5 linked regions of the Homo sapiens genome follow. The protein of the gene in region 1 purifies or fractionates together with the protein of each later gene. This does not show direct contact. Each region holds a gene or a part of one and is shown on either strand. Other genes may lie near its edges.

What was found.
Region 2: the proteins of TESK2 (region 1) and GCN1 purify together in Homo sapiens (affinity purification with mass spectrometry; one large-scale study listed by BioGRID and IntAct). This does not show direct contact.
Region 3: the proteins of TESK2 (region 1) and CPLANE1 purify together in Homo sapiens (affinity purification with mass spectrometry; one large-scale study listed by BioGRID and IntAct). This does not show direct contact.
Region 4: the proteins of TESK2 (region 1) and KIF1C purify together in Homo sapiens (affinity purification with mass spectrometry, with the first as the bait; one large-scale study listed by BioGRID). This does not show direct contact.
Region 5: the proteins of TESK2 (region 1) and CAD purify together in Homo sapiens (affinity purification with mass spectrometry; one large-scale study listed by BioGRID and IntAct). This does not show direct contact.

What each region holds. Positions count from the first base shown.
Region 1 is NC_000001.11:45,455,928-45,461,480, reverse strand, and holds part of TESK2 (dual specificity testis-specific protein kinase 2), read left to right. Parts: intron 1-3,609; 5' UTR 3,610-3,695; coding exon 3,696-3,917; intron 3,918-5,553. UniProt on the Homo sapiens protein: Dual specificity protein kinase activity catalyzing autophosphorylation and phosphorylation of exogenous substrates on both serine/threonine and tyrosine residues. Phosphorylates cofilin at 'Ser-3'. May play an important role in spermatogenesis.
Region 2 is NC_000012.12:120,138,564-120,144,116, forward strand, and holds part of GCN1 (stalled ribosome sensor GCN1), read right to left. Parts: intron 4,379-5,553; coding exon 4,261-4,378; intron 4,160-4,260; coding exon 3,944-4,159; intron 2,461-3,943; coding exon 2,296-2,460; intron 294-2,295; coding exon 132-293; intron 1-131. UniProt on the Homo sapiens protein: Ribosome collision sensor that plays a key role in the RNF14-RNF25 translation quality control pathway, a pathway that takes place when a ribosome has stalled during translation, and which promotes ubiquitination and degradation of translation factors on stalled ribosomes.
Region 3 is NC_000005.10:37,245,831-37,252,027, forward strand, and holds the start of CPLANE1 (ciliogenesis and planar polarity effector 1), read right to left. Parts: upstream 3,547-6,197; 5' UTR 3,415-3,546; exon of another isoform or gene 3,016-3,414; intron 1,916-3,015; 5' UTR 1,869-1,915; coding exon 1,788-1,868; intron 16-1,787; coding exon 1-15. UniProt on the Homo sapiens protein: Involved in ciliogenesis. Involved in the establishment of cell polarity required for directional cell migration. Proposed to act in association with the CPLANE (ciliogenesis and planar polarity effectors) complex.
Region 4 is NC_000017.11:5,021,073-5,026,601, reverse strand, and holds part of KIF1C (kinesin-like protein KIF1C), read right to left. Parts: intron 4,511-5,529; coding exon 3,893-4,510; intron 3,135-3,892; coding exon 2,451-3,134; 3' UTR 1-2,450. UniProt on the Homo sapiens protein: Motor required for the retrograde transport of Golgi vesicles to the endoplasmic reticulum. Has a microtubule plus end-directed motility.
Region 5 is NC_000002.12:27,233,276-27,238,828, forward strand, and holds part of CAD (multifunctional protein CAD), read left to right. Parts: intron 1-36; coding exon 37-261; intron 262-350; coding exon 351-533; intron 534-732; coding exon 733-951; intron 952-1,242; coding exon 1,243-1,410; intron 1,411-1,969; coding exon 1,970-2,152; intron 2,153-2,260; coding exon 2,261-2,365; intron 2,366-3,008; coding exon 3,009-3,248; intron 3,249-3,473; coding exon 3,474-3,555; intron 3,556-4,103; coding exon 4,104-4,270; intron 4,271-4,442; coding exon 4,443-4,607; intron 4,608-4,780; coding exon 4,781-4,912; intron 4,913-5,155; coding exon 5,156-5,357; intron 5,358-5,553. UniProt on the Homo sapiens protein: Multifunctional protein that encodes the first 3 enzymatic activities of the de novo pyrimidine pathway: carbamoylphosphate synthetase (CPSase; EC 6.3.5.5), aspartate transcarbamylase (ATCase; EC 2.1.3.2) and dihydroorotase (DHOase; EC 3.5.2.3).

The sequences.
Region 1 (5,553 bases):
TGGTTCCAGTTCTGGTTCTACTAGCTCTGTATCCTTAGCAAGTTACTTCATCTTCTGAGCCTGTATTTCTTTTTCTGTAAAATGGAGATCAGACCTACCTTGCTGGGTTTTTTTGTTGTTGTTGTTTTGAGACGGAGTCTTGCTCTGTCACCCAGGTTGGAGTGTAGTGGTGTGATCTGAGCTCACTGCAATCTCTGCCTCTTGGGTTCAAGGGATTCTCAAAGTGCTGGGATTACAGGTGTGAGCCACCGTGCCTGGCCACGTTTTGAGATTAAATGAGGAAATGCTTTTAAAATTCCTGATGTTTAAAAAAAAAAAACAGTGGCCAGGGGCAGTTCACACCTGTAATCTTAGCACTTTGTGAGGCTAAGGTGGGAGGATCACTTGAGGCCAGGAGTTCAAGACCAGCCTGGGCAATACAGTGAAACCTTGTGTTTCCAAAAAAAAAGCTATTATGACCCATGACTCTGGGTTTTAAACAAGCTCCTCAGGTAGTTTGAAGCACATTATCAACAGACATACTTTGAGAAATACACTACCCTTGGCTTTTTGGTTTCAAGTCTAGCTTTGCTAGTAAATAGGTTATAGCATTAACTTTTAGCATTTGCACTTTCTGGGCCTTATGTTTCTTCAAATATAAAATGAATGACTGAAGTTGATGTTTTCTACTGGCTCTAAAATTAAGAAAATTTGGTTTTTAAAATTATTATTATTTTTTTAGTGATGAGGGGTCTTGCTGTGTTGCCTAGTCTGGTCTTGAACTGGCAGGCATGATGGCACATGCTTGTAGTCCCAGCTACACAGGTAGCTGAGGCAGGAAGATTGCCTGAACCCAGGAGTTTGAGGCTGCAGTGAGCTGTGATAGCACCATTGCACTTCAGCCTGGGCTTGGATTAAAGGAATGAGCCCCTGCACCCGACCCTATTTTATTTTATTTTTATTATTTAATTTATTTACTTTGAGACAGAATTTCACTCTTGTTGCCCAGGCTGGAGTACAATGGCATGATCTCGGCTCACTGCAACCTCTGCCTCCCAGGTTCAAGCTATTCTCCTGCCTCAGCTTCCCGAGTAGCTGGGATTACAGGTGACTGCCACCACGCCCAGCTAATTTTTTTGTGTTTTTCGTAGAGAGAGGGTTTTGCCATGTTGGCCAAGCTGGTCTCAAACTCATGACCTCAGGTGATCTGCCTGCCTTGGCCTCCCAAAGTGCTGGGATTTTTCAGGCGTGAGTCACCATGCCTAGCCTCTATTTTATTTTTAAAATTCCATTTATATTTTAGATTCAGGAGGTATGTGTGCAGGTTTGTTACAAGGGTATATTGTGTGGTGCTGAGGTTTGGACTTCTGTTGATCCCACCACCGAGATAGTGAACACAGTACCCAATAGGAAGTTTTTCAGCCCCTGCCTGTCTCCCATTTGGGGGCCTCCAGTGTCTGTTGTTCCCATCTTTATGTTCATGTGAACTCAAGATTTAGCTCCTAGTTATAAGTGAGAACATGCGATATTTGGTTTTCTGTTTCTGTGTTAGTTCACTTAGAATAATGGCTTCCAGCTGCATCCATGTTGCTGCAAAGGACATGATTTCATTCTTTTTTGTGGCTGCAAATTTTTTGTCTTATAACCCTAAATTTTTTTGAGACAAGGTCTTGCCCTGTTGCCCAGGCTGGAGTGCAGTGGTGCTATCACAGCTCACTGCAGCCTCAAACTCCTGGGCTCAGGCAATCCTCCTGCCTCAGCCACCTGTGTAGCTGGGACTACAGGCGTGTACCATCATGCCTGGCTAGTTTTTACATTTTTTCATACAGACGAGGTCTCACTATGTTGCCCTTACTGGTTTCAAACTCCTGAGCTCAAGTGATCCTCTTGCCTTGGCCTCCCAAAGTGTTAGGATTATAGGTATGAGCTACTGTGGCCAGCTAACCCTAAATTTTTGTTCTTGTGGATGTAAGTATTTGGTCTGGTGGTGCTGATGCCACTTTTTGGCATAGGTTCAATAGAGGTACTTAAATGTTTTGTTATTTGGGAACTCAGAGTATTCTTCCTTTTTTGAAGACTGTGGTAGAACTAGATTAACTAGATTCAGGTAGATCTCATGGAACCTCAGGATGCAGTTAGGCCTTAAGAATTGGGGATTAGAGCAGAATAGGGAATTCAAAAAGTTCCCTTCCTTTTTTTTTCTTTGAAAATTGGCCTCAATCTCTTGACTTCTTCTGCCTTCCAGGCAGTATTATAGAAAATGCCCCTGGCCAGCAGCTTCTGAGTTTACATGGCTTCTATTTTAGAAAGCCGCCATATTGAGACTGGACTATTTAATTCCAATTGCACATTGCCAGGAAAGAAACTGTGGTTGTACACACTGGGTACGGTGCTGACTTCTGGCAATGGGTAAGGAGGCAGACTCATGTTACTAAGATGGCCCTGGGATTCCTGCCACTTTTCTGAGTTGCAGAGCTGGTTAGAAGTGGTGGTGGTAAACTGAGTAGGTATCCACCTCCTTTATGAAAGCATTTCACTAATTGAGGAGTCACAATGTTGTATTTTGCATAGAACCCTTACAATTGAGTCTCATGGAAAAAAGTAGAAAGAGGGAGAGACAGGCTAAAAGAAAAAGTAGGCTTGTGCTTTTATTCTTAGTTATGTACCAGATGGGATGGAGCCTTCTATAGTTACTTCTACTGGACTGTGCTTTTTCATCAACAGTGAATTTTTAGATTGCTTTTGGATATAGTTTTCTTTTTTAAAAATTATATAATATATAATTTTGAAGTCTCCTTGTAATGTTTGTTTTATATATTTGGAATTAATTTTTGAAATAAAATATTATATGAGGCTATAAAGGGTATTGATTGGTAGAAAGAAGCACAGGCTTTTGAATCAGACAGGCTTTGCACTTCAATTTTTTTTTTTTTTTTTGAGACAGTGTCTCACTCTGTTGCCCAGGCTGGAGTGCAGTGGCACGATCTCGGCTCACTGCAACCCCTGCGTCCTGGGTTCAAGTGATTCTCCTACTTCAGCCTCCTGAGTAGCTGAGATTACAGGTGCTTGCCACCACGCCTGGCTAATTTTTGTATTTTTAGTAGAGATGGGGTTTCACCATGTTGGCCAGGCTGGTCTCAAACTCCTGACCTCAAGTGATCCGCCTGCCTTGGCCTCCCAAAGTGCTGGGATTACAGGCGTGAGCCACTGCACCCAGCTTCCATTTTATCTCTGCCTTTTAGTGACTGATTTCTTGATCTCTCTGTGAAATGAACATAATAATCCTTATATCATGGATTATCTGAGAATCAAACGAGATGATGTATGTCAAGCTCTTATACTATGTTTCCTAGAAAGTAGGTGCTCAATGAATGATAGATATTATCATTGTTATTTTGTTACTTAGAATGTAATTGGTGATCTTCATGATATTCTACTCATGGTAAAGACTGACTATATCTTGGGCTTTAAATATATCAGTGTTATTTGAGGGTAAAGACATAAAACATTTTTTAGATCTGAAAACCAGGAACTAGAATGTGAAAGGAAATATTTTTGCATTGAGCATTTATTGCTTTACATGTATTTATTCATTAAAGATTTCAGTGGAAATTTTTTTGATCTCTTTAGTGTCAAACCAGAAGAGAAGTAAAATTCAACAAAAATTTATGTGTGGAGTTCCTTCTTAAAAGAAGAAAAAAGTGATTATTTAGACTATGGATCGGAGCAAACGGAATTCAATTGCAGGATTTCCTCCACGTGTGGAGCGTCTTGAAGAGTTTGAAGGAGGTGGTGGAGGAGAAGGAAATGTGAGCCAGGTGGGAAGAGTTTGGCCATCTTCGTATCGAGCTCTTATAAGTGCCTTTTCCAGACTGACGCGTTTGGATGATTTCACCTGTGAAAAAATAGGGTCTGGCTTCTTTTCTGAAGTGTTCAAGGTGAGTGAGTCTTCAGCTTTTCTCATATTGTCTTGCTGTGGTCACATTTACTGCAGGTTGATAGTTGTGTTTAATTAGGATGTAGGATTTGCCTAATAAAGGTGCTGTGGATCTTGAACACTGTTCTAAATTCTCCTTTCAAGCTATTTATTAACTTATATTAAGATATTTTGTTTGAATCCCAAAAATAATATGCTGGTTAAAAATTCAAATAACATAGGATTCTCTTCCACCTCACCTCTACCCCCAGCCACACATGTGTGTATGTATCCACACATACATTCTCCAGTAATAACCACTATTAACAATTCAGTATGTATACTTCTGGACTCTTTCTGTGCATATACATATATTATGCACACACCTTAAATACATATATTAAAATTATATATACACACACCCACATATATAGTTTTTGTTTGCTTATCTTCAGTAAAATTGATAGCTGGGTACAATGGCATGCACCTGTAGCCCGAGCTACTCAGGAGGCTCGCTTGAGGCTGTGAGTTTGAGAGCAGCCTGGGCAACATAGCAAGGCCCTGTCTCAAAAAATATGAGCCCATAATGCTCCTAAGCAATCATATTTCCCTGTTTCACTCACTCCCTCAAGAGAGTATTTTGTACCTTTTCTTCTCTCATCAAATCCCAGTATTTCCTCACTAGTCCTCATTGTCAGTAATTAATGAATTGCTTCCCAATTCACTGAGAAAATTGAAGCAAGCAGAAGAGAACTTCTGCAGACTTCCATTACTACAAATAGCTATCAACACACATCTTTACCCAGTTACTTGGCCTTTATACCTTGTACTATGGATCAACTACTCATGCTCCTAAGTCCATTATTTCTGTTTATATTGTACATTCCATTTCCACTTGCCTACTAATAGGCATTGCCTAAGAAATTCTCCCCTCTCTTTTCTACATTGTATTTTCACTACTAAGTATTACCATTAACATGTTAAAAAAATTCTTTTAAGGAAAAAAAAAACCCAAATATTTTGGCTCTGTTATTTCCCCTTTATTTTATTTTATTTTTATTTTTTTTGAGATGGAGTCTCACTCTGTTGCCCAGGCTGGGGTGCAGTGGCATAATCTTGGCTCACTGCAACCTCTGCTTCCCGGGTTCAAGCAATTCTCCTGCCTCAGCCTCCCTAGTAGCTGGGATTACAGGCGCCTGCCACCACACCTGGCTAATTTTTGTATTTTTAGTAGAGACAGAGTTTCACCATTTCGGCCAGGCTGGTCTTGAACTCCTGACCTCAAGTGATCCACCTACCTCAGCCTCCCAAAGTGCTGGGATTATAGGCATGAGCCACCGCGCCCAACCTATTTTATTCTATTATTTTATTTTATTTTATTTTATTTTTTGAGACAGGGTTTCGCTCTGTCACCCAGGCTAGAGTGCAGTGTGGTGTGATCATGGCTTACTGCAGTCTTGACCTCCCTGGACTCAGATGATCCCCCCACCTCAGCCTCCAGAGTAACTGGGACTACAGGTGCATGACACCATGCCCAGCTAATTTTTGTATTTTTTGGAGAGTTGGGGTTTCACCTTGTTGCCCAGGCTGTTCTTGAACTCCTGGGCTCAAGTGATCAGCCTGCCTCGGCCTCCCAAAGTGTTGGGATTACAGGTAAG
Region 2 (5,553 bases), on another chromosome or scaffold:
ATCTTGCTATACCCACTCCCTCTGGAGGGCCCACATTGCGACTGCCTTGGCAGAATAATCGCCCTGTATTTTCCATCTACAAAGACGGCAAAAGCCAAACTGGTAGGTAGGTGTGTGGTAGATCCACTCACCAGCTGCTTTAGTAAAAATGGGAGAATGTCCTCCAGAGCCTGGTGGCCGATGGTGGAATGCAGCTGCTCGAAAGTCTTGGCTGCCGCCTCTCTGACCTCCTCCAGTGGGTCACACAAAGCCTTCCTTGCCGTGGGCACGAGGGATTCAGAGAAATACAGCACCTGCAATGGCAAGCTACAACTGTACCAGATGCAGGAAAGGCAAAGAAGGAGCAGAAGCAGACAAGAAGCACAGGCAGGGGACTCTGACCCAGCTAGGCCACCCTAACTCTCTTTGCCTGACTTGTCTTTTAACTTAACTCTTTACTGTGAAATAAAAAAAAGGAGAGAAGGGGCCGGGCACGGTGGCTCACACCTGTAATCCCAGCACTTTGGGAGGCCAAGGTGGGCGGATGACTTGAGGCCAGGAGTTCGAGACCAGCCTGGTCAACATGGCAAAACCCTATCTCTACTAAAAATACAAAAATTAGCTGGGTGTGGTGGTGCACACCTGTAATCCCAGCTACACAGGAGGCTGAGGCACAAGAATCGCTTGAACCCAGGAAGCAGAGGCTGTAGCCAAAAGAGATGGTGCCCCTGTACTCCTGCCTGGGCAGCAGAGTGAGATTGTCTTAAACTAAAAATTTTAAAAAAATTAAAAAGTAGAGAGGGGCCGCGCACAGTGGCTCACGCCTGTAATCCCAACACTTTGGGAGGTGGAGGCAAGAGAATCACTTGAGGCCAGGAGTTTGAGACCAGCCTGGGCAACATAGTGAGACCTCACCTCTACTAAAAATGCAAAAATTAGCTACGTGTGGTGGTGCACACCTATAGTCCCCAGCTACTCAGGAGGCCATAGCGAGAGGATCACTTGAGCCCAGAAGGTCAAGGTTACAATGAGCTATGATCGCACCACTGCACTCCAGCCTGGGTGACAGAGTAAGACCCCGTCTCAATAAAAAAAAAAAGCAGAGAGGATGTGATGCACCCCCATGTATCCTTCACTGAGACTTAATAATCAACAGCTTGAATCTTTTAGGTGAATTCTCAATATACCTCCCATCTTCTCTAAGAACTGCAAACTCCTTCCCATGGCATCTGGCCCCCTCTCTCCCTGGACTCTTTCTTTTGCTTATTCTCTTGGAAAACTCCAAGTCCTTCTTCAAGTCTCAATCCAGACTTTGTGCTCTATGAAGTCTTTGGGTCTACAATGGAGCCAATAATGGCTCTGCTCCCTCAGTAACGATCCCAGCACAGCAAAGCCCACTCTGCATTCTAATGACTGGTTGGCATGTGGGCCTTGCCATTGGACTGTGGGGACTTTGCAGACAAGAACTCAGCCTCTGTGGAACTCTACCTCTCCAATGAATCACAACTCTTTCTGATGACAGAATTTCTTTTGATTCCTTGCCAAATGTAAATTTTAAAAACCAAACGTAAGACAAACATCAATATAGGAGAAGAGGGATCTGGTATCCTAGGAATTCAGACAAGGATGCCCAAGCCAAGCAACTGGCCACTTGCTTACATTTCTAGCGGGCCATCCACTTAATTGCTTTGGCGTTTTCATCCAAACACGAAGGCAGTGCCTAAAAGCACTCCTAACCTACTCCCCAGGGTGGTCTCCAGGATCATTTAACTCAGGAACCAAGTAAGAGTAATGGACTTCACACCCCTTGAACGTTGCTGCTATGGAAACAGTATTGTTGCCAGACGCAATATGCTTCCTCCCACCTGGCACCACAACTCTTACCTGCTCCCCTCCTGCTAAGGGTGAGTGCACACCCCCTCCCGCACCCTCCTGCCCTACCCACTCACACAGCTGTCCATCCCCTTTCCCAGAAGGAGGTGCACACATTTTAACTGGACTTATATAGCATCACAAAAGAGACTGATCCTGAGCAACCTCCACAGTTGTAAGAGAGCGATCATCTCCAGTTTCCAAAGGCCACTCAAGGAGGCATCCAAATCACTTAGCTCTTAGCCTGCAAAACTGACAGGAAAGCTGAGAAGACGGAGCCTCAAGTCCATGTGGCCCAGCCAGCACCTCCCCAGAGTGAGACTGGCTCATCCCTGAGGGCAGCACAAACCCCCTAGAGGTGAACCTCCTTCAGTAGCCCTCCCCCGCCCTCTGAGTCAGGTCGTCTGCAGTGCACAGCTGGCGGGATCCTTGGAAGATACTCACGGCATCCCGGCTGGTGGACTTCATGATCTCACTTAGGCCAATGCACACACCCTGCCTCTCATCGCTCTTCTGAGACCTCAGGCCTTCCTCAAGGATGGGGATGATCTCGGGGAGGATTTTCTCCCCTAACTTCCGCACAAGATCTCCCAATGTTCTCGCTGCAATCTGTCAACAGAGACCAATCCAGGAAGTAAAGTCCCTGCAAAGCCCAGGGCACCCAGAGGAGGACTCCAGAATGAGGGCCCTGAAACCTCCCAGGCTTTATCTGAATCACTGACTTAACTTCCCCAAATGCTCTTACCCCTAAAGAGCCCCCAAATACTCTCTGTAGTGCTTGCAAAACACTACCAAAAAATTATCTGTTTCACACACACCTACACAACCTAACATTAAGAGCCAGCAGCACCTTACACATGTACAAAAAATTCATCATCTGCTGCACAGTCAAGGGCCAATTTCCCTGGATGACTGAAGCCTTAACACTGTGCTATGGCTGAGCAGGAGCCGAATCTGGAACAAAGCTTTAAGGAAAAAAAAACATCTACTTTCTGAGACCTCATGCAAACCCTTCTTTAGAGCCAAATACACAATTTGCTTGCCAAGGATGGGGGGTTGGAAGTAGACCAAAGGAGATGGGCAGAAATGATCACCAGCCCATCTGGGCACCTCCTCCAGGCCCACTGATCTGTCTGCCCCTGCCAGCGCGCCAGCCTGATCTCATGCCGCACTGCTCCTCCCTGCCTCCTCACTCCAGCCACACTGGCCTTGCTCAGCCCCTACTGGTGCTATGTTCCTGCCCACCACGGGACCTCTGCATATCCTGTCTTTGTATCTGAAACATTATTTATTCCCTCTGTCTGGAATGGTCTTTCGCCACCTCCTCACCTGGTTAGTGCTTACTTATCTTTCATCTTCCAGCATCATTTCTTCTGAGAAGTGTTCACTAACACAGGCCCATCCCTCCCCAGCAGGTCAAATGCAGCTATTATAAGCATTTGCAGTGCCATGCAGCACTGGCCACAGTCGCATTTTACATCTCTTTGTGTGGTTATTTGATTAATATCCATCTCCTCGACTAGACTACCTCTCATGAGGATAAGGAATGAAGCTGCCTTTCTTCTCCATTGTGTCCCCAGGTGCTAGGCCCCTGCTTAGTGCACAGGAGATGCTAATAAATATTTGCAGAGGCCAGGCGTGGTGGCTCAAGCCTGTAATCCCAGCACTTTGGGAGGCCGAGACGGGCGCATCACGAGGTCAGGAGATCGAGACCGTCCTGGCTAACGTGCTGAAACCCCGTCTCTACTAAAAATATAAAAAAATGGCCAGGTGTGGTGGTGGATGCCTGTAGTCCCAGCTACTCGGGAGGCTGAGGCAGGAGAATGGCATGAACCTAGGAGGCGGAGCTTGCAGTGAGCTGAGATCACGCCACTGCACTTCAGCCTGGGCGACAGAGCAAGACTCCACCTCAAAAAAATAAATAAAATAAAATTAATCAAAAAATATTTGCAGAATGACTAAGTAAAGAACACAATGTCCCTCTGTTAGGCAGGGTGGATGGGTACTTTCCCAGGCTCTGCAGACCCAGCCTTCTAGGCTCTGAAAGGAGGCACTGGGGCTGCTGGTCCAAAACAAGGCCCAGGAAACTCACCGTTCTCTTATCTGCACACGTGCTGGCCAGGAAACCCAGCAGGAGCCCAAAGAGAGTGGGTAGGATCTCACGCAAGGTGCGGGGGGTATTGGAGACAACAATCTTCCAGACATGCAGGGACGCCTGCCGCACCACCAGCTGGGTGTCTGAGCGGCCCATGTACAGCCCTGCCAACACCCGGTTCCGCCGCTCTACCCCCAGGGCAGTGATGATCGCCTGCAGCCAGTAGAAGGGGACAGAGAGTAGTGAAGCCTCTATGGCATGGGCATCAGGGCACACCCTACCATCAGCAGGGGCAGGAAAGCCACTGCAGGCACCTTGTTGGACTGGGCAGTTCCAAAGTTATCATCCTCAGAGGCAGTTTCTGTGGTCATCTTCCCAGTGACTCCTGAGATGTGAAACAGGAGATCCCCAAGGAGCTGAACAGAGCTGAACCTGAGAAGGAGGCCAACAACACAGTCACACAGCTGCAAGGAGTGGGCTCGGCACAACTGAGCACTGCACAGAAGATGGAAAGAAGTGCACCCAAAATACTCATGACGGTCATCTTGGAATGGGAAGAGTCAGGTGGTTTACATTTCTTTACACTCGCCCACATATTTTCCAAGTTTTCTACTAATGAACATACATTAATGTTGAGGGAAAAAAACTTTTTAAAAACATGTAAAAATTTCTATAACAAAAGTTATAAAAAATAAAGTGAGTACAAAAGGGGAAGCATTAACAGGCAAGTAGGAAGACTGATCATCAGAAGTGGAGGAACCAGGAGAGGCCTTAAAGGATAAACTATTTCAGGCCAGGTGTGGTGGCTCACGCCTGTAATCTCAGCACTTTGGGAGGCCAAGGCAGGCGGATCACCTGAGGTCGGGGGTTCGAGACCAGCCTGACCAACATGGAGAAACCACGCCTCTACTAAAAATACAAAATTAGCCAGGCGTGCTGGCAGGTGCCTGTAATCCCAGCTACTCGGAAGGCTGAGGCAGGAGAATTGCTTGAACCCGGGAGGCAGAGGTTGCGGTGAGCCGAGATCATGCCACTGCACTCCAGCCTGGGTGACAGAGCGAGACTCCGTCTCAAAAAGGAAAAAAAAAAAAAAAAGACCACTGTATGAATGTGCTATATTTTTAAATCAACCTCCAATTTTTCAAATGGTAAGCAATACTGCAACAAACATCCTTATGTCTAACAGCTTTAAGCACTTGACCATTCCCTACATCCTTGAAATATATTCCCATAAGTAAAATTTTTAGATTAAAGAGTACTTGACACTTAAAATCTGAATACAAATTGGAAGCCTGTATAGAGAGGACTTTTTAAAAAAGAATCAGAATAAAGACATTGCTACAGGAAACTGGAAAAGTTACAAAATGGTTAAAAGCAAGGGTCTGGAAAAAGTTGAGAGAGTTCTTGGCAACATTCTGCTCTTCATTTCTCAACTGGAGTTATCAAAATGCAAAGTTCAACCCTTTGGATCTTTTTTTTTCTCCTAAGACAGCGTCTTGCTCTGTTGCCCAGGTTGGAGTGCAGTGGCACAATCTCGGCTCACTGCAACCTCTACCTCTGGGGCTCAAGTGATCCTTCCGCCTCAGCCTCCTGTGTAGCTGGGATTA
Region 3 (6,197 bases), on another chromosome or scaffold:
AACGGCTTCTTTTTCCTAAGAGAAGAAACATGTGAAGGACTCAAGAGGTGCCAGAAATTAATTCAACTTACTGCCTAAATAAATTATCCCAGAAATCAAAGCGACATTTAAGAAAGATTATCCATTTGTACCACAAATCATAAAATGAACATTAAGCTTAATACTCTATAGTAGCCTGAACATTTTGAATTGTTTTAAAATACCTCGTTAGAATTAATAGGTAAGGCTACCTAGTAGTTGTATTTCAATTTCTTTGAAGTTTAAAATTATAGGAGTGTCCTCTAATTCTGCTAGCCAAAACTGGCTTATCTACTTTTTAATCTTTTTTTTTTTTTTTTTTTAAGAGCTGAGGTCTCACTTTGTTGCCCAGCCTTAAGTGGAGTAGATATTTACAGGCACTATCCCACTACTAATAAGCATGAGAGTTTTGACCTGGCCCATTTCTGACCTGGACCAGTTCACCATTCTTAGGCAACCTGGTGGTTACCCCAGCCCCTTGATCTCGGGAGGTCATCATATTGATACCGAATTTAGTGCAGACACGTAATCGGTATAGCACACTGCAGCCCAGAACTCCTGGGCTCAAGCGATCCTCTTGCCTTAGCCTCCTGAGTAGCTGGGACCACAGGTGCATACCACTGAACCTGACTCTCATCAATTTTAACAGTAGTATGAGCAAGTTTTTAAATTATTTACTTAGATTAAAATAGATATAGCTTCTGAAATTCATAAATCCCTGACTCTGCTCATTTTTTATTACCTAGAAAAAGTAGGCTGTTTTGAGTTAACTTTGTTTTCATATATTCTAAGGCAGTGATTTTCAAGGTATAACTGAGCCAGCAGCATCAGCAACACCTCAGAAGTGAGGAGTTCAAGACCAGCCTGACCAACATGGTGAAACCCCTAGCCTCTACTAAAAATATAAAAATTAGCTGGGCATGGTGGCATGCGTCTGTAATCCCAGCTATTCAGGAGGCTGAGGCAAGACAATCGCTTGAACCTGGGAGGCTGAGGTTGCAGTGAGCCGAGAGGATGCCATTGCGTCCAGCCTGGGCAACAGAGCGAGACTCCATCTCAAAAAATAAAAATAAAAAAATACAAAATATCCAACCCTACAGCAGACCTAATTAACTGAAAACTTTGGGAACAGGGCCCAGCAATCTGTGTTTTAACCACCTCTCCAGATAGTTCTGATAGTTTGAGAACTCCTGTTACAGGGGAGTTAGTGGTATAATTTCTCACAGGAAATTTAACACTTTATTTCAATAATCATCACAAATAAAGTAGGGTTGCCTACTTTCCCTAAGTGGGGAATCTATGCCATATATTATGAATGGCATTCCTGGATTACTAACGTATTGTGGCCCATTTCTTCCATCCTAGTTTCCAAGAACACTTCATAGCACAATCATGAAAACCACAATAGGAGGAAACACTCCATTAACTGTTCCAGTAAAGGAAAGCTCAGGACATTAAATATTCCCTTTTGATATATGCCATCTCAACTTAACTTAAACTTGACTTAAACATAATATGAAAAAAATAGTTTAAGTAAAAATCTTCTAAATAAACCACTTAACATTCTGGAAAAGCTAACTTGCTCATTATAATAAAAACGAAACACACACAAAACCCTGTTCAGTGTGCAGGTAGGTGATCCTCCTGTAGATCCTCCTCCAGTAGATGATGTTTTATTTATTTAAGATCATAGAACACTCCTATATTACAGGCAAAACACACATATAACATATATAAAACTGGTATTGCATGAATAAAGAAAAACCTACCTTTCCCAACCAGGAGACACGTGGCCATGGTTTTTTCTGCTTAATACCTGTTGATGTCAAGATTTCTAATCTTATCTCCATGTTTGTTAAGCTATCAATGACCAATTAAGTAAAACAGTCCCAAGATTCTGTAAACAATAATAGTAATAAAATATAAATGATGCATAATATTCACTGGGCATTTTTTTTTTTTTTTTGAGACAAGAGTTTCGTTCTGTTGCCCCAGCTGGAGTGCAGTGATATGATCTCAGCTCACTGCAACCTCCGCCTCCCGGATTCAAGTGATTCTCCTGCGTTAGCCTCCCGAGTAGCTGGGACTACAAGCGTGTGCCACCACGCCTGGCTAATTTTAAGTAGAGATGGGGTTTCACCATGTTGGCCAGGCTGGTCTCAAACTCCTGACTTCAAGTGATCCATCCACTTCGTCCTCCCAAAGTGCTGGGATAACAGGCACGATCCACTGCGCATGGACCACTGAAGATCTTAACTGACAATTTTCATAAAGTTTTGATTTATATTTTATTTCTGAGTTGAAGTTTTGCTCTTGTAGCCCAGGCTGCAGTGCAGTGGCGCGATCTCGGCTCACTGCAACCTCCGCCTCCCGGGTTCAAGCGATTCTCTTGCCTCAGCCTCCCGAGTAGCTGGGATTACAGGCATGCACCACCACACCGGACTAATTTTTTTGTATTTTTAGTAGAAACCGGGTTTCACCATGTTGGCCAGGCTGGTCTCGAACCCCTGACCTTGGGTGATCCGCCCGACTCAGCCTCCCAAAGTGCTGGGATTACAGGCGTGATCCACTGTGCCCGGCCAAATTAGATGGGCTTGTTTTTTTGTTTTTTTAATAAAATAGCTTTAAAAGAAAAACTACTCAGAGACAGCACACAAAGATCTATCAAGATGCTAGCTATCAGTCAGCACGGAGGCTGAGATGGGAAGATCGCTTGAGGACAAGAGAGTTCGAGGCTGCAGTGAGCTGTGATTGTGCCTGTGAGAGCCACTGCACTCCAGCGTGGGCAACGCAGCGAAGACTCCGGCTCAAAAATAAATAAATAAAATTGCAAATAAAATAAATTCTCACAAAAGGGTTAACCAAATGCCAGAGAAACGCCGGCATTAGAAAAGCATCATTTGCAGCTCCTAATGAAATAACAAATCCAGTCAATAGTATCAGCGCTGCTAAAATTATTGAGTGAAAAAATACTGGGAACTTTATGCACTGACATACCCTAAATCCATTAGTCAATCTTAAAATTGCTAAGAGCGAGGAAAATTGACGTTCTATTCCTCCGGATCCTGCTCGAGAAGCTGGGGGACTCGGGTCCGGTGCCGAGGTGTGGCCCGAGCCTGGCACCACCCACGCCGGCCGGGTGACCCCGGCCCCTTGGGGCTCCCGCGCTCCGTCAGCAGGCGACGCTGGGAGGCTGGGGTAGGCCCAGAGCGAGGACGGGCCCGGACTGGGTAGTGGGGATGTACCAGGGCCGGGTGCGGCGGGAGACGGCCCGGGAGGCGGAAGGTCGCGGACCTGCCCGACAGAAGAGTAGATGAGGGGAGACCGAGGACGCCCGGGTCCGGGGAGCTTACGAGGAGGCCAGGATCGCGGGGTAAGGAATCCGCGGGCAGTTACCTCCGCCAGGGGCAGGGTCCGGCCAGTCAGGCGCGAGAAGGCTAGGCGAGGCCGACTGCGCGGGGTGAAGACGCCAGGCCGACAGCTGCGGGCCCTACCGCCAGCCCTGACGCGAGCCTGCGTCCTGGCGACGGCGGAGGGCGGGCAGGGGGCGCGGGCGCTGCCACGGCGCCTGCTCAGAACCGGCCGGGAACGCCGCGGGCGGGTCTCCCCGGTCCTCCGCCCCTCCAGCCCTGCTCTCAGGCCTCCGCCCGGGCCCTCTAAGCTGCCAGCCGCGCCCGCCTCCGGGCTCCTCGCCCCTCCTCCCGCGCGCTCCCCTCCTCAGCGGCCGCCGGACCCCCTCAGTTCACTTCTCCCAGTTAACGCGTTCCTCGGACGCTGCTAGTTTGAGCGCACAGGCATTGGGCGGGGCTCACGGGGGAGCCGCTTAATAACCGACCAACATGAAACTCAAGGGCTGCCCCTTCCTAGCGGGGACCCTGCACAGACCCGAAAATAAGGGGTTTTGCTCTGCCCTCCTCAGTTCACGTGGGCACCTTGGAACACTGAAGAAGGCATTTTCCGAACTCACTGTCCTACGGACTTATTCTCCGCACTGTTTTCGCCTCCTTCGCCCTGTTCTCGTGACTGACAGGAGCAGGGGTCACAAGCAGGCAGCCCGAGAGCTCTGCTCACCTGGAAAAGCATTTTTGTGTAGCTTAAATGTGAAGGCCTCAGGCAGTGGCCTGTTGTCCTCCTCCACATGCGCCCATCTTCACTCTTTCATGTGACTGGCCTGTTTTTGAAGGCAGGACCCTGTCACCCTTGGCTAGGCCAGGTATGTTCTGCACCGAAAATGGCCCTGCCCTCTGCATTGGATGGCTAGCTCTTAGGTTGGTTTATTTTAGCAAATAAGCGTTACAGGGTAGGCGAACTGGCTGCATCAGAACCACAATTACCCCTGTGTCTCTGGGTGGGATAAATGGCGGATGGCATTCTGGCAGCTCAGCCCCACTTATCTCAGAGGTTATAGATCTGAGGTGGTTTAGATCCACCCCCAAATCACGAACATTTTACATAAGCCGTGCTAGAGTTAGCATAAAAGTCTCACAGAAAAATTTGGAAACTGAGAAATCCTAACCTATTCCCACAATCCTGTGTTCCCATTTTTAGGTCTTAAGATATGAAGACAATGGGATAACTGAGGCTGATTTTGCTGTGTGGCCATTAGACCTAGAAATATTGGTGTGATTCTGGAGTTGATTGCTCCACACGTTTATTTATTTATTTTCCTTTTTTTCCCTCCTCTTCCTCCTCCTCTATTCTTTAAAAACGTATGGAAATGTATCCGGCAATGTTTACTGTAAAAAATAATGTATGGAAATGACTACAATTTGCTAAAATAAAAATCATTGAGCACTTATGTGTGTCAGACACTATGCTAGGTATAAAGAGGGGAAGATGGTGTCCCTATTCAAAAGAGAGTCACACACACTTAAGTTACAGTGCAGTCATAAATACCATGATCGCAGTATGCACAGGTCCATTTTCTCTATCTGGGTGATGGGAAGGTTCAAAACTAAGCTAGGTTTTGAATGAGGAATAGTTTCATTTTGAAGCACATCCATTTTGCGATGCCTCTGGAGCTATCTAGTGAACAATTTAGATGCGTGGTTCAGAAGCTCGATGGGAGGCTTGGGAACACAGAATGTGTAAAATAAGCATCAGTCTCCCTTTCACCCTCTCTGCACTTTTTAAGGGTCATCTGTCTTTAGTATATATTGGTAAGAGATTTTATGGAGGATACCAATTCTTTTTTTTTTTTTTTGAGACAGAGTCTCACATTGTCACCCAGGGTGGAGTGCAGTTGCACGATCTCTGCTCACTGCAACCTCCGCCTCCCGGGTTCAAGCGATTCTCCTGCCTCAGCCTCCCAAGTAGCTGGGATTACAGGTGCCCACCACCAGGCCCAGCTAATTTTCGTATTTTTAGTAGAGACGGGGTTTCACTATGTTGGCCAGGCTGGTCTTGAACTCCTGACCTCGTGATTCACCCACCTCGGTCTCCCAAAGTGCCGGGATTACAGGTGTGAGCCACCGTGGCCTGCCAGCATACCAATTCTTATGAGAGAATGTCAGGGGTAGAAGAGATCCAAGGAAATGGTTGACCAGGTAAAAAACTGATAAAGGTCAAATAGAAATAAGCCTGAGAATTGCCCCATCAGATTTGGTTTAGTGTTTAGTAGGTATAGTTATAGTGCCAGATATATAATAACTGAGTTCCTTTTGAAAGCATATAGTAAAATCAAATCTGATTAGCCTAAGTAACAGAGGTGATTTATTGTAATGATTCTGGGGTATCTGACAGATTGTAGATATTCTCTCTAGGGTGCTCCTATCCAATATAAATTTCTGTAATGATGAAAATGTTCTATGTCTGCTGTGTCTTAATATGGTAACCATTAGCCAAAAGTGCTACTGAGCATATGAAATGTAGCTAGTGCAACTGAGACCCTGTAAACTAAGATTCCAGTCAAAGAGAAGGGAAAAAACAGTGAGCTTTGCCCACAGTCTTTAAGACCTGTGCCCAGAAATAGTACATAATATTTCTGCTTACATTCCACTGGAAATAACTTAGTCACATGATCACACCTAACTGCAAGGAAGCCTGGGAAATGTAGATTAGCAGTGTACCCAGAAAGACTGAGAAAATGGTTTTGGTGAACAACTAGCAGTGGTCAGAATACAAAAAGTAATAATACAGATTTCCTGCTTTCAAGAATATCACAGGTTTAGTGGGAGACA
Region 4 (5,529 bases), on another chromosome or scaffold:
GTTTTTCTATGTTTTGTAGATACAGGGTTTCACTATGTTGCCCAGGCTGGTCTCGAACTCCTGGACTCAACTGATCCTCCTGCCTCAGCCTCCCAAAGTGCTGGGATTACAGGTGTGAGCTTCTGTGCCCAGCCATAAGTGGATTTTTAAAATTATGGATAATATACATTTACATAAGTCAAGGTCTTTAGGGAAAAATAATCCGTCTTTTAAATTAGCAAGCTATTTTTCTCATCTCAAACCCCACAGCATTCTCGGTAACACTCAACTCAGCTCCCTCTGACCTCCAGAAAACTTGGTATTCTATCATTTTCTTGCTCACATTGAGTCTCCCTGGCCAGATTTTAAACTGCTCAAGCAAACACTGTTGCCAAACCATCCATTACATTCCAGATCTTGAGTCACTGTCAACAGGTCTGTGAAAACCTGGCAGTCAGAGGTGTCAAAGTAAAGGCAGGAGCATCAGGGTGTGGAAACCTAGAGTAAACCTAATCGTTCCTTCGCCCAGAGCCGTGGTTTGGCTGCAGTTGGGATATCTATGGTTTTGGCTGGAGACTGACCCCAGGAAGCTGTGAAGCAGTAGCTCAGAGCTTCAAGTGGGTCAAAGTGTTTTCCTGAGAACAGGATGAAAATGTGGGGACTCCAGAGTCTGGCAAGCCAAAGGCAGTGCTGTAGTACAATCTAACCTGCAAAATCCTGGCAATGTGGCATAGTCAAGGGCTCGCTGCCTCAAGCCAGAACATTAAAACAAGCAGGCAACAAACAGTTTTTTAATTTTTCTTGAAATGGAGTCTCGCTCTGTCGCCCAGGCTGGAGTGCAGTGGCGCAATCTCAGCTCACTGCAAGCTCCGCCTCCCAGGTTCATGCCATTCTCCTGCCTCAGCCTCCTGAGTAGCTGGGACTACAGGCCCCCGCCACCATGCCCGGCTAATTTTTTTATTTTTATTTTTAGTAGAGATGGGGTTTCACCATGATAGCCAGGATGGTCTCGATCTCCTGACCTCGTGATCCACCTGCCTCGGCCTCCCAGTGCTGGCATTACAGGCGTGAACCACTGCGCCTGGCCAACAAACAGTCTTAACACAAATAAAATAACGACTGGGAACAATGATGTAGCCTGCCAGAAGGCAGGTAACACAACCAGGATGAAAACAATCAGGTAAGCGCAGTATGCTTGCCCAACCCATTCACTATCAAGAGAAACTGGCTGCTTGGGAGACCTTTCAAGTAAGTTAGGTGACTTAAAGCAGAACTCCTCTGTACCCCACAAATCCTTCTGTATCTGTCAGCAACAGCCAGTTAAGCATTGACAGGCTGGCGGTCCCTCTACCTCCCCTCGCATCCCCGCTTCTGTGCTTTGTCCATAACAGACAGTGGTGCTGCTGGCACAGACTGAGACACTGGGTAAGCAAACATGAAAGCAGGGGAGGCCGGGCGCGGTGGCTCACACCTGTAATCCCACCACTTTGGGAGGCCAAGGTGGGCGGATCACTTGAGGTCATCAGGAGTTCGAGACCAGCCTGGCCAATATGGTGAAACCTCGTCACTACAAAAAAAACAGTAATGAGCCGGGCGTGGTGGCACATGCCTGTAATCCCAGCTACTCAGGAGGCGGAGGCTGCAGTGAGCCAAGACTGTACCTCCAGCCTGGGCAACAAAGCAAGACCCTGTCTCCCAAAAAAAAAAAGCGGGGAAAAGATCGGGCTGCGCACCCTGAAGGAAGAGACAGGAGGGTGAAGTTCAGGAAGACAAGATGGAAACATTCTTATATCCAGATCTGGGTGGTGCCTGCACAGAGCACACATACAATACTTCACTGATAAGTATGCTTAAGACCTGTGCCATTGCCTTATATAACCTACACCTCCATGAAAACCCAAAACAAACAGGCCACAAGCTCCCTGTTTGCTATCCTTTATTAAAGGGCCCACATCCTCATGGGACTCCAGCCAAACCAGTCAGGTCCCCCAAATATAGCAGGAGGCCTGGAAGGGGAGGGGAATGACTTATGATCCTACCATGCCTCCCAAGAAACAGAAACCACCACAGACAGACAGACAGACGGACAGGGGCTGGGGAGAACTTGCCTCACTCTCAGTCCTCTCCCACTTTCCCCCACTTGAAAAGAAAGTCAAACACTGGCTACGCAGCACCCCAGCCCCCCACCCCACCCATAGCAGCGTTTGTGGGACACACCCCCTTTGCAAGGGGTGGCCCCGAGGCAGCTTCCTATCTCTCTCTTCACTTTGGTTTGCTCCTGGCAACTCCGTGCCCTCTTCCTTTCCTCAGCCTCCGGCTCGGTCTCCCCCTTGTCTTCTATCACCTACTCGGACCTTCTCTCTCATCTCCTGGGCCTCCCTGCCCCAGCACTTCTGGGGAAGCAGCGTCTCGGGCGTCTTCCCTTCTCCTAGCAAGGGGCCCCACCAGGCCCTCTGCCCAGGATGTGGGACTCACACAGCTGCCCCACTCTCCTTGAGGTCAGGGGCAGAACGCTGCCGTCTCATTCGTGGGGGAGTAGTGTATGGGGGGTAGCGGGGCCCTGGGGGCCGCTGGGCTGGGTAGGGTTGGGGTGGCTGGGGATAAGAGTTGTGCTTTTTGGGCTGGAAGTGCTGGGGTTCAGGCTGTGCAGAACCCGCTCCCCGGGATCGGCCCCCTCCATCCAGGGAGTTCCTGCGGGGATGGTGGGACCTTCGGGGACTCGGAGGCCGGCGGGCAGGGGTGGCTGGATGGGGAGTGACCTCCTCAGGGGGTTGGAGCGGAGTTGGAGCCTCCCCGCTCCCCATCCCTGGCCAAGACTCCCGGTGCTGGGGGTTGCTCTTGAAGGGGAAGCGTAGCTTGCAGTCGTGAGGGGGCACAAAGCGGGCTGGGGGCCTGCGCAGCCCCCCGCCCCGGCCCCCAGAGCCCTGCAGTCCCTGCAGCCGTAGCTGCTCCTGCTTGAGCCAGCGAAGACGACCACGACGGAAGGCAGGGTCCTCCTCCATGAGCCGTGACACCCGCTCCCAGCTTGACAGTGGTGGCGAGGGGGGCCGGGCTGACGGCATGCGGTCACTGGGGGCTGCCTCCTCTGCTGCCTCTGATCCTTCAGGCGGGGCCCAGGGGACCTCACCACCTTCTTCATTCTCATCCTCATGATCCTGGGAGGGAGGAGTGAGAAAAGGAGAAGGGATGTGAGGAGAGCTGAATCCTCAGGACATGTGGATTCAAGAGGGACCTGGAGTGGCTGGATGTCAAAGGGTCCAGAGAAAAGCCTAGAGATAAGGAAGCTCGAAAAATAGTGGTTTAGGGCCGGGCGCAGTGGCTCACGCCTGTAATCGCAGCACTTTGGGAAGCTGAGGTGGGCGGATCACAAGGTCAAGAGATCAAGACCATCCTGGCCAACATGGTGAAACCCCGTCTCTACTAAAATACAAAAAAAAAAAATTAGCCGGGTGTGGTGGTGCGCGCCTGTAGTCCCAGCTACTCAGGAGGCTGAGGCAGGAGAATGGCTTGAACCTGGGAGGCGGAAGTTGCAGTGAGCCGAGATTGTGCCACTGCACTCCAGACTGGCAACAGAGCAAGACTTCACCTCAGAAACAAAACAAAACTGCAAACTTTATATCAGTGGGTCTTAGACTTCACTGTATTTCAGAAACACCCAGAGCTTATTATAAATGCAGATTTGTCCCCAAAGATGTGGATTCAGTAGGTCTGGGGTGGAACCCGGGAATCTATTTTAATTAGCAGCCTGGTGACAGCGAGGCATGTGGTTCGTAAACAATATTGAAAAAAACGTACTATACTTCAATGCAATTTTTTCCAGACTTGGGGAAGGTTAGGCTCTGAGATGGAAGGTTCAGACTCCTAAAGTGAAGAGCCGAGGGAGGAGAGAAGGGAGGCAGAAGGCCAGTCCTACCTGGGCCAGGGGGATGACCCTCTCCATGCGGAGCATGCGGTCCCGCAGGGCCTGCAGCTCCCGGTCCTTGCTGCTGTTCTGCAGCTTCACCTCCTGCAGAATCCCCGTCAGCTTGTCGATGTGGGCCCGGAGGTCCTCCACCTCCGCCCCTCGGGCTCCCTCCTCACTGCCACCACCACTGCCAGCTCCACCTCCTTCCTCCTCGCCTACAGTGTCCCAGACATCCCGGGCCACAGCCCTCCAGGCGTCTCCGGGGCCGTCTGGCTTGCCATAGGTGCGACACAGCTCCCGCATCTTGAGGGCGGCCAGGGCCTCAATCTCAGCCCGCCCGTGGCGGAAGTCAGCCAGGGCCACCTCGTAGCAGATCTCCTTCACCGCCTGCATCTTCAGGTCAGCCATGGTGGCCCAGCGGGGGTCTTTGCCCTGCAGCCTGCGTCGCTGGGGGATCTGATAAACCCTGCGAGGGGCCCTGCGCTTGCCACTGCTGGGCAGACCACAGCGTTTGACAATGGTCTGGACCGTGGTGGGCGGCAGCTGCTCCCGCAAGGAGGAGATGAGCCTCCAGCTCTCTTCACAAGAGCGCTTGTCAGAGTCATCCCCGCTGTCCGAGTCTGCATACTGGGGCCAGAGAAAGAAAGAGGAAGAGAGGGCTAAGGACATCCAGAGCCCATGTGTCTTGGCCCAGTGTGTCCTAAGTACACTGGAAACACGCCCATCAGGGAGCCTGGGTTCAAGTCCTGCTCCACCCCAACAGCGCACCCTTGGGCAGACTGCTTAACGCTGCTCTTCTAGACAACAGAGATAGTGACGGGATCTACCTCCCAGATCCACGTGGAGTACTTAGAACCATGGCCGGCACCGAGAAAGTTACCATAAGTATTAGTTGTAGCTAATCGAGTGTGGAACTTTGTGCAAGACTTAAAAGACCATTGAGGGGTGGTGGCTCGTGCCTGCAATCCCAGCATGTTGGAAGGCCAAGGCAGGAGGATCACTTGAGCCCAGGAGCTGAAGACCAGCCTGGGTAATGTAGTGAGACCCCCACCTCTACAAAAAATAAAAAATGTAGCCAGGCATGGAAGTGCACACCTGTGATCCCAGCTACTCAGGAGGTTGAGGTGGAAGGACTGCTTGAACCCAAGGAGTTCGAGGCTGCAGTGAGCTATGATCAGGCCACTGCACTCCAGCCAGGGTGACAGAGCAAGATCCTGCCTCAAAAACAAAATAGAAAGTCCATGGCCGGGTGCGGTGGCTCATGCCTGTAATCCCAGCATTTTGGGAGGCTGAGGCAGGCGGATCACCTGAGGTCAGGAGTTCGAGACCAGCCTGGCCAACATGGTGAAACCCTGTCTCTACTAAAAATACAATAATTATTAGCCAGGCATGGTGGCGGGCTCCTGTAATCCCAGCTACTGGGGAGGCTGAGGCATGAGAATCGCTTGAACCCAGGAGGCGGAGGCTACAGTAAGTCGAGATCATCCCACTGCGTTCCAGCCTGGGTGACAGGAGACTCCATCTCCAAAAAAAAAAAAAAAAAAAAAAACCACAACAATCTTAATACCAACACAGGTGGTACTTGGATATGGTGAAAATCATAAACTTGGCACGAGAAACTGGAGTATGGGAAGGCCTGGTCAACT
Region 5 (5,553 bases), on another chromosome or scaffold:
TTGCTGCCACCACTTGTTTCTCCCCCTGCAACGTAGGTGGTGATGGACATCTATGAGCTCGAGAACCCTGAAGGTGTGATCCTATCCATGGGTGGACAGCTGCCCAACAACATGGCCATGGCGTTGCATCGGCAGCAGTGCCGGGTGCTGGGCACCTCCCCTGAAGCCATTGACTCGGCTGAGAACCGTTTCAAGTTTTCCCGGCTCCTTGACACCATTGGTATCAGCCAGCCTCAGTGGAGGGAGCTCAGTGACCTCGAGGTGGGCTGGGACCTGGTGGGTTACCCGGAGGCTGGATGATGCTTGGGGGAAAGTGTGAACAACTCAGCTAAGCTCCCTGCCTCCTGTAGTCTGCTCGCCAATTCTGCCAGACCGTGGGGTACCCCTGTGTGGTGCGCCCCTCCTATGTGCTGAGCGGTGCTGCTATGAATGTGGCCTACACGGATGGAGACCTGGAGCGCTTCCTGAGCAGCGCAGCAGCCGTCTCCAAAGAGCATCCCGTGGTCATCTCCAAGTTCATCCAGGAGGCTAAGGTGGGAGGCTGCAGACAGTGAAGTCTCTGAGGGCATGCTGCCAGCCCTGGAGGAGACTTCCTTCTCTGGTCCAGCAGAATCATAGGCACCAGGGCTGGGAACAGTGGGCTATGTGGGGCTCGTTAAAGGAAGAGACAATCCTAGAGTAAGTGAGAGAAGAAAGTGGCCCTATGTCCCACTGTCTGTGTCCCCCCGCTAGGAGATTGACGTGGATGCCGTGGCCTCTGATGGTGTGGTGGCAGCCATCGCCATCTCTGAGCATGTGGAGAATGCAGGTGTGCATTCAGGTGATGCGACGCTGGTGACCCCCCCACAAGATATCACTGCCAAAACCCTGGAGCGGATCAAAGCCATTGTGCATGCTGTGGGCCAGGAGCTACAGGTCACAGGACCCTTCAATCTGCAGCTCATTGCCAAGGTAATAAGGCTAAAGGAAAGAACTAAAGGGCCACAGCTCTTGCATGTTCTGTGCTGGCCACAGTGCCATGAAGCCCTGCACTGTCTCCTGCCTTCATCCAAGTAGGCAGGGAAGCTGGAGGGAAAGGGCTGTAGCTAGAGCTCATGGTGTTGGGGCTTATGACAGTCAGTGACCCTGAACCCTGCTCAGTCTGATCCCCCAGAGCTGAGGACGGAGAGGAAGAGTCTAGGCCTATAGATAGTGTCAGCAAGGCCAACCTGCAGAAGGCCTGACCAGTCTTCTCTGCCCCAGGATGACCAGCTGAAAGTTATTGAATGCAACGTACGTGTCTCTCGCTCCTTCCCCTTCGTTTCCAAGACACTGGGTGTGGACCTAGTAGCCTTGGCCACGCGGGTCATCATGGGGGAAGAAGTGGAACCTGTGGGGCTAATGACTGGTTCTGGAGTCGTGGGAGTAAAGGTAAGGAATATCGAAACCCTTGGGGTTAGCAGAAAAATAGCGGGAGAGAGTTCACTCACCACACAGAGTTGTCAGTATGTAAACCAGGCACTGACTGCAAGGCATTGCCGGATCGTGGGGGTAATGAGGTGGTCATTGTCCCTTAAGAGCTTACTTTATGGTAATGGGAGGGAAGAGAAGTTGGATCCCCAAAAAAGCTTTGGTATAGAACAGTCCGTGGTAAAACTACATATTCGACCTGTAAACAGAATGCTGCAGGAGTTCAAGAGACAGGAGGTGCTGCTTCCAAAAGGGGTGATCTGGGAAGGCTTGAGCGAAGGGGTGCTATTTGAATTGAGTTTTGAAGGATGGTTAAGGTTTTTTATTTGCAAGGGCACATCCTAAGCAGAAGCTGAGGGATGACCCCAAGTACGTTTGGAAAGCAGGAGGGCACACAGAGAGGGCAGGCTGACCCTGCCATTCAGATGGGATCAAGCACAGGGTACTGTGTCCGTCTCTGCTGGTGAGGGAGGAGGTCCTCTCACACCTTGGCCCTCTCTCTTCCCTCCCGCCCCTTTAGGTGCCTCAGTTCTCCTTCTCCCGCTTGGCGGGTGCTGACGTGGTGTTGGGTGTGGAAATGACCAGTACTGGGGAGGTGGCCGGCTTTGGGGAGAGCCGCTGTGAGGCATACCTCAAGGCCATGCTAAGCACTGGCTTTAAGATCCCCAAGAAGAATATCCTGCTGACCATTGGCAGCTATAAGGTATCAGAATCCAGGAGGGCTTCCCGAGGGCCGTGGCTCCCTGGGCCAGGGCTGACCTTGAAATGGAAGACAGGAAGAAAACAATTTCATCCTTCTGTTTGGTTTCAGAACAAAAGCGAGCTGCTCCCAACTGTGCGGCTACTGGAGAGCCTGGGCTACAGCCTCTATGCCAGTCTCGGCACAGCTGACTTCTACACTGAGCATGGCGTCAAGGTGCAGGAACTCTGGCAACCTACCCCACTGCTGCCCTTCCCCAAGGGGGTGAAAATACTGCACCAAAGAATTATCTGGGCTGGGCACGGTGGCATATACCTGTAGTCCCAGATACTCAGGAGGCTAAGGCAGGAGAATCTCTTGAGCCCAGGAGGTAGAGGCTGCAGTGAGCTGCGAGTGTGCAGTGAGTGCACCACTGCACTCCAGCTTGGGAAACAGTGAGATGCTGTCTCAAAAAAAAAAAAAACAAAGAATTATCTCCTATTCCCCTGCTTTTATTATTACCATTATACTAGTAAGCTATATTCCATGCAGAAAGCAGAATACACAGGAAGCAAAGAGAAAAGTCTCTTAAAATCTCTGTACCACTGTTCTGATATTTTTCCTTCCAGGATTTTCTCTGTGTACATGTGTGTGAGCTCATACTGCACCTAGTCCTTGGTAACCCATCTTACTTAGTGTAGATATCTTTCCTGCCAAGAAATACACTTTGCCAGTATCAAATAGAGGCAGCCCTCAGTGCCCACCCTATGGGTCCTCAGTCTCCTCATCATGGGCTCCTGGGCCAGCTCCTCTCCCTTAAGGCTAGCCTTCCTGACCGCTGCCAGACAGCTTGGCCCTGACCTTGACTCCGGGTTGGCAGGTAACAGCTGTGGACTGGCACTTTGAGGAGGCTGTGGATGGTGAGTGCCCACCACAGCGGAGCATCCTGGAGCAGCTAGCTGAGAAAAACTTTGAGCTGGTGATTAACCTGTCAATGCGTGGAGCTGGGGGCCGGCGTCTCTCTTCCTTTGTCACCAAGGGCTACCGCACCCGACGCTTGGCCGCTGACTTCTCCGTGCCCCTAATCATCGATATCAAGTGCACCAAACTCTTTGTGGAGGTAACTGAGACCCATGTGCTGGGAGGGAGACTGCCAGTGTTGATGGGAAGAAGAAAGAGGGAGGAGTGAGTATGGAACAGCCATGCTAGTAATAAAGCTTTGTGGCTACAGAGGGAGAGATGGTGGGTATAGAGTGTGCAGAGCCTGGTTTATGGGAAAACCACATCTCTCCCTACAACTCCCAGGATCACCCTTCCCTTAAAGCTGACTGCTTTCCACTTGCAGGCCCTAGGCCAGATCGGGCCAGCCCCTCCTTTGAAGGTGCATGTTGACTGTATGACCTCCCAAAAGCTTGTGCGACTGCCGGGTAAGTCTTTGGGGAGAACTTGGCTTCTGAACACTGGCAGCCCCTGGCATAGAGACCTGCAGTGTGGTGAAGGATGGCTGGGGGGCCCACTCTTTGTCCTGGACTGCACAGACTGTGAAGACCCCAGAATGTTTCTCACTCTTTCATTCCTTAATCCACAGTGTCCACAGTGGCCTTGTCTGAGGAATTTTTTTTTTTTTTTTTTTTTTGAGACAGAGTCTTACTCCATCGCCCAGGTTGGAGTGCAGTGGTGTGTGATATCGGCTCACTGCAACCTCCGCCTCCCAGGTTCAAGCGATTTTCCTGCCTCAGCCTCCCAAGTAGCTGGGATTACAGGTGTGTGCTACCACACCAGGCTAATTTTTGTGTTTTTAGTAGAGACGGGGTTTCACCATGTTGGTCAGGTTGGTCTCGAACTCCTGATCTCAGGTGATCTGCCCACCTCGGCCTCCCAAAGTGCTAGGATTACAGGCGTGAGCCACCATGTCCAGCTCACCCTTCCTATTTCTGAATCTTCCTGTAATCTTGCTGCTTCCATTTTCTCCCAGGATTGATTGATGTCCATGTGCACCTGCGGGAACCAGGTGGGACACATAAGGAGGACTTTGCTTCAGGCACAGCCGCTGCCCTGGCTGGGGGTATCACCATGGTGTGTGCCATGCCTAATACCCGGCCCCCCATCATTGACGCCCCTGCTCTGGCCCTGGCCCAGAAGGTGAGCCACTGCACTCTTCCTGGTATTGGAGACCCATATGCCCCTACCAGCCACCCTTGCTTCCCTGAGCCCTTTTCCTTCTGCCCCGCCCTATGGGCCCAGGCCACTGGTGCCAGGCTAGCCTGTGTGGGCATGGGTGCCAGTGAGCCTTACCTCTGTGTATCCTCTCCAGCTGGCAGAGGCTGGCGCCCGGTGCGACTTTGCGCTATTCCTTGGGGCCTCGTCTGAAAATGCAGGAACCTTGGGCACCGTGGCCGGGTCTGCAGCCGGGCTGAAGCTTTACCTCAATGAGACCTTCTCTGAGCTGCGGCTGGACAGCGTGGTCCAGTGGATGGAGGTAGGGAGTGTGCATGTGGCAGGAGGCCACCACCCAGTGTCTCCTGGCTTGTGGGCCCCTGCCTAAGTGGGCTGGTAGCAGTGAGGATTCAGGGGAGCTCCTGGGGACTCTGGGCTCTGATGAGCACAGTCAGAGATTCTGCACACTCCTTCATCAGTTCTTTCTGCTCCCAGCATTTCGAGACATGGCCCTCCCACCTCCCCATTGTGGCTCACGCAGAGCAGCAAACCGTGGCTGCTGTCCTCATGGTGGCTCAGCTCACTCAGCGCTCAGTGCACATATGTCACGTGGCACGGAAGGAGGAGGTAAGAGTACACCTGAGATCCTGCTGTCCCTGTTGCTTTCCCAGTAACACCAAAGGTCAGGGTAGTCCTTAGGGGCAGGAGACAGCAGGAGGAGAGTCTGGAGACAGCAGGAGGAGGGTCTCGAGCCAGCACCCTTGCAGGTCTACATCATCATTTTTTGAGCAGGGATGTTGGCCATTGGGACTTTGTGTAGGGCAAGGCATATGGGTGGTGCCTCTTCTGGATCTTCCCATTGTTCCCCAGATCCTGCTAATTAAAGCTGCAAAGGCACGGGGCTTGCCAGTGACCTGCGAGGTGGCTCCCCACCACCTGTTCCTAAGCCATGATGACCTGGAGCGCCTGGGGCCTGGGAAGGGGGAGGTCCGGCCTGAGCTTGGCTCCCGCCAGGATGTGGAAGCCCTGTGGGAGAACATGGCTGTCATCGACTGCTTTGCCTCAGACCATGGTGAGAGAATCCAGCATGTACCTCCTCTGCCCAGTGGGGCTTGTGGGACAGCCCTAGCAAGAAAATGGGAAGCAGGCCAGGCCTCAGGACTCTACTAGGACAGGGTCTTGATCCGTATGGGACCCTAGCCTCTAGGGTACCTGGTCTGTGATAGGTGCCTGATAAATACTTGTTGAAAGAATGAATGAGCCAGTGA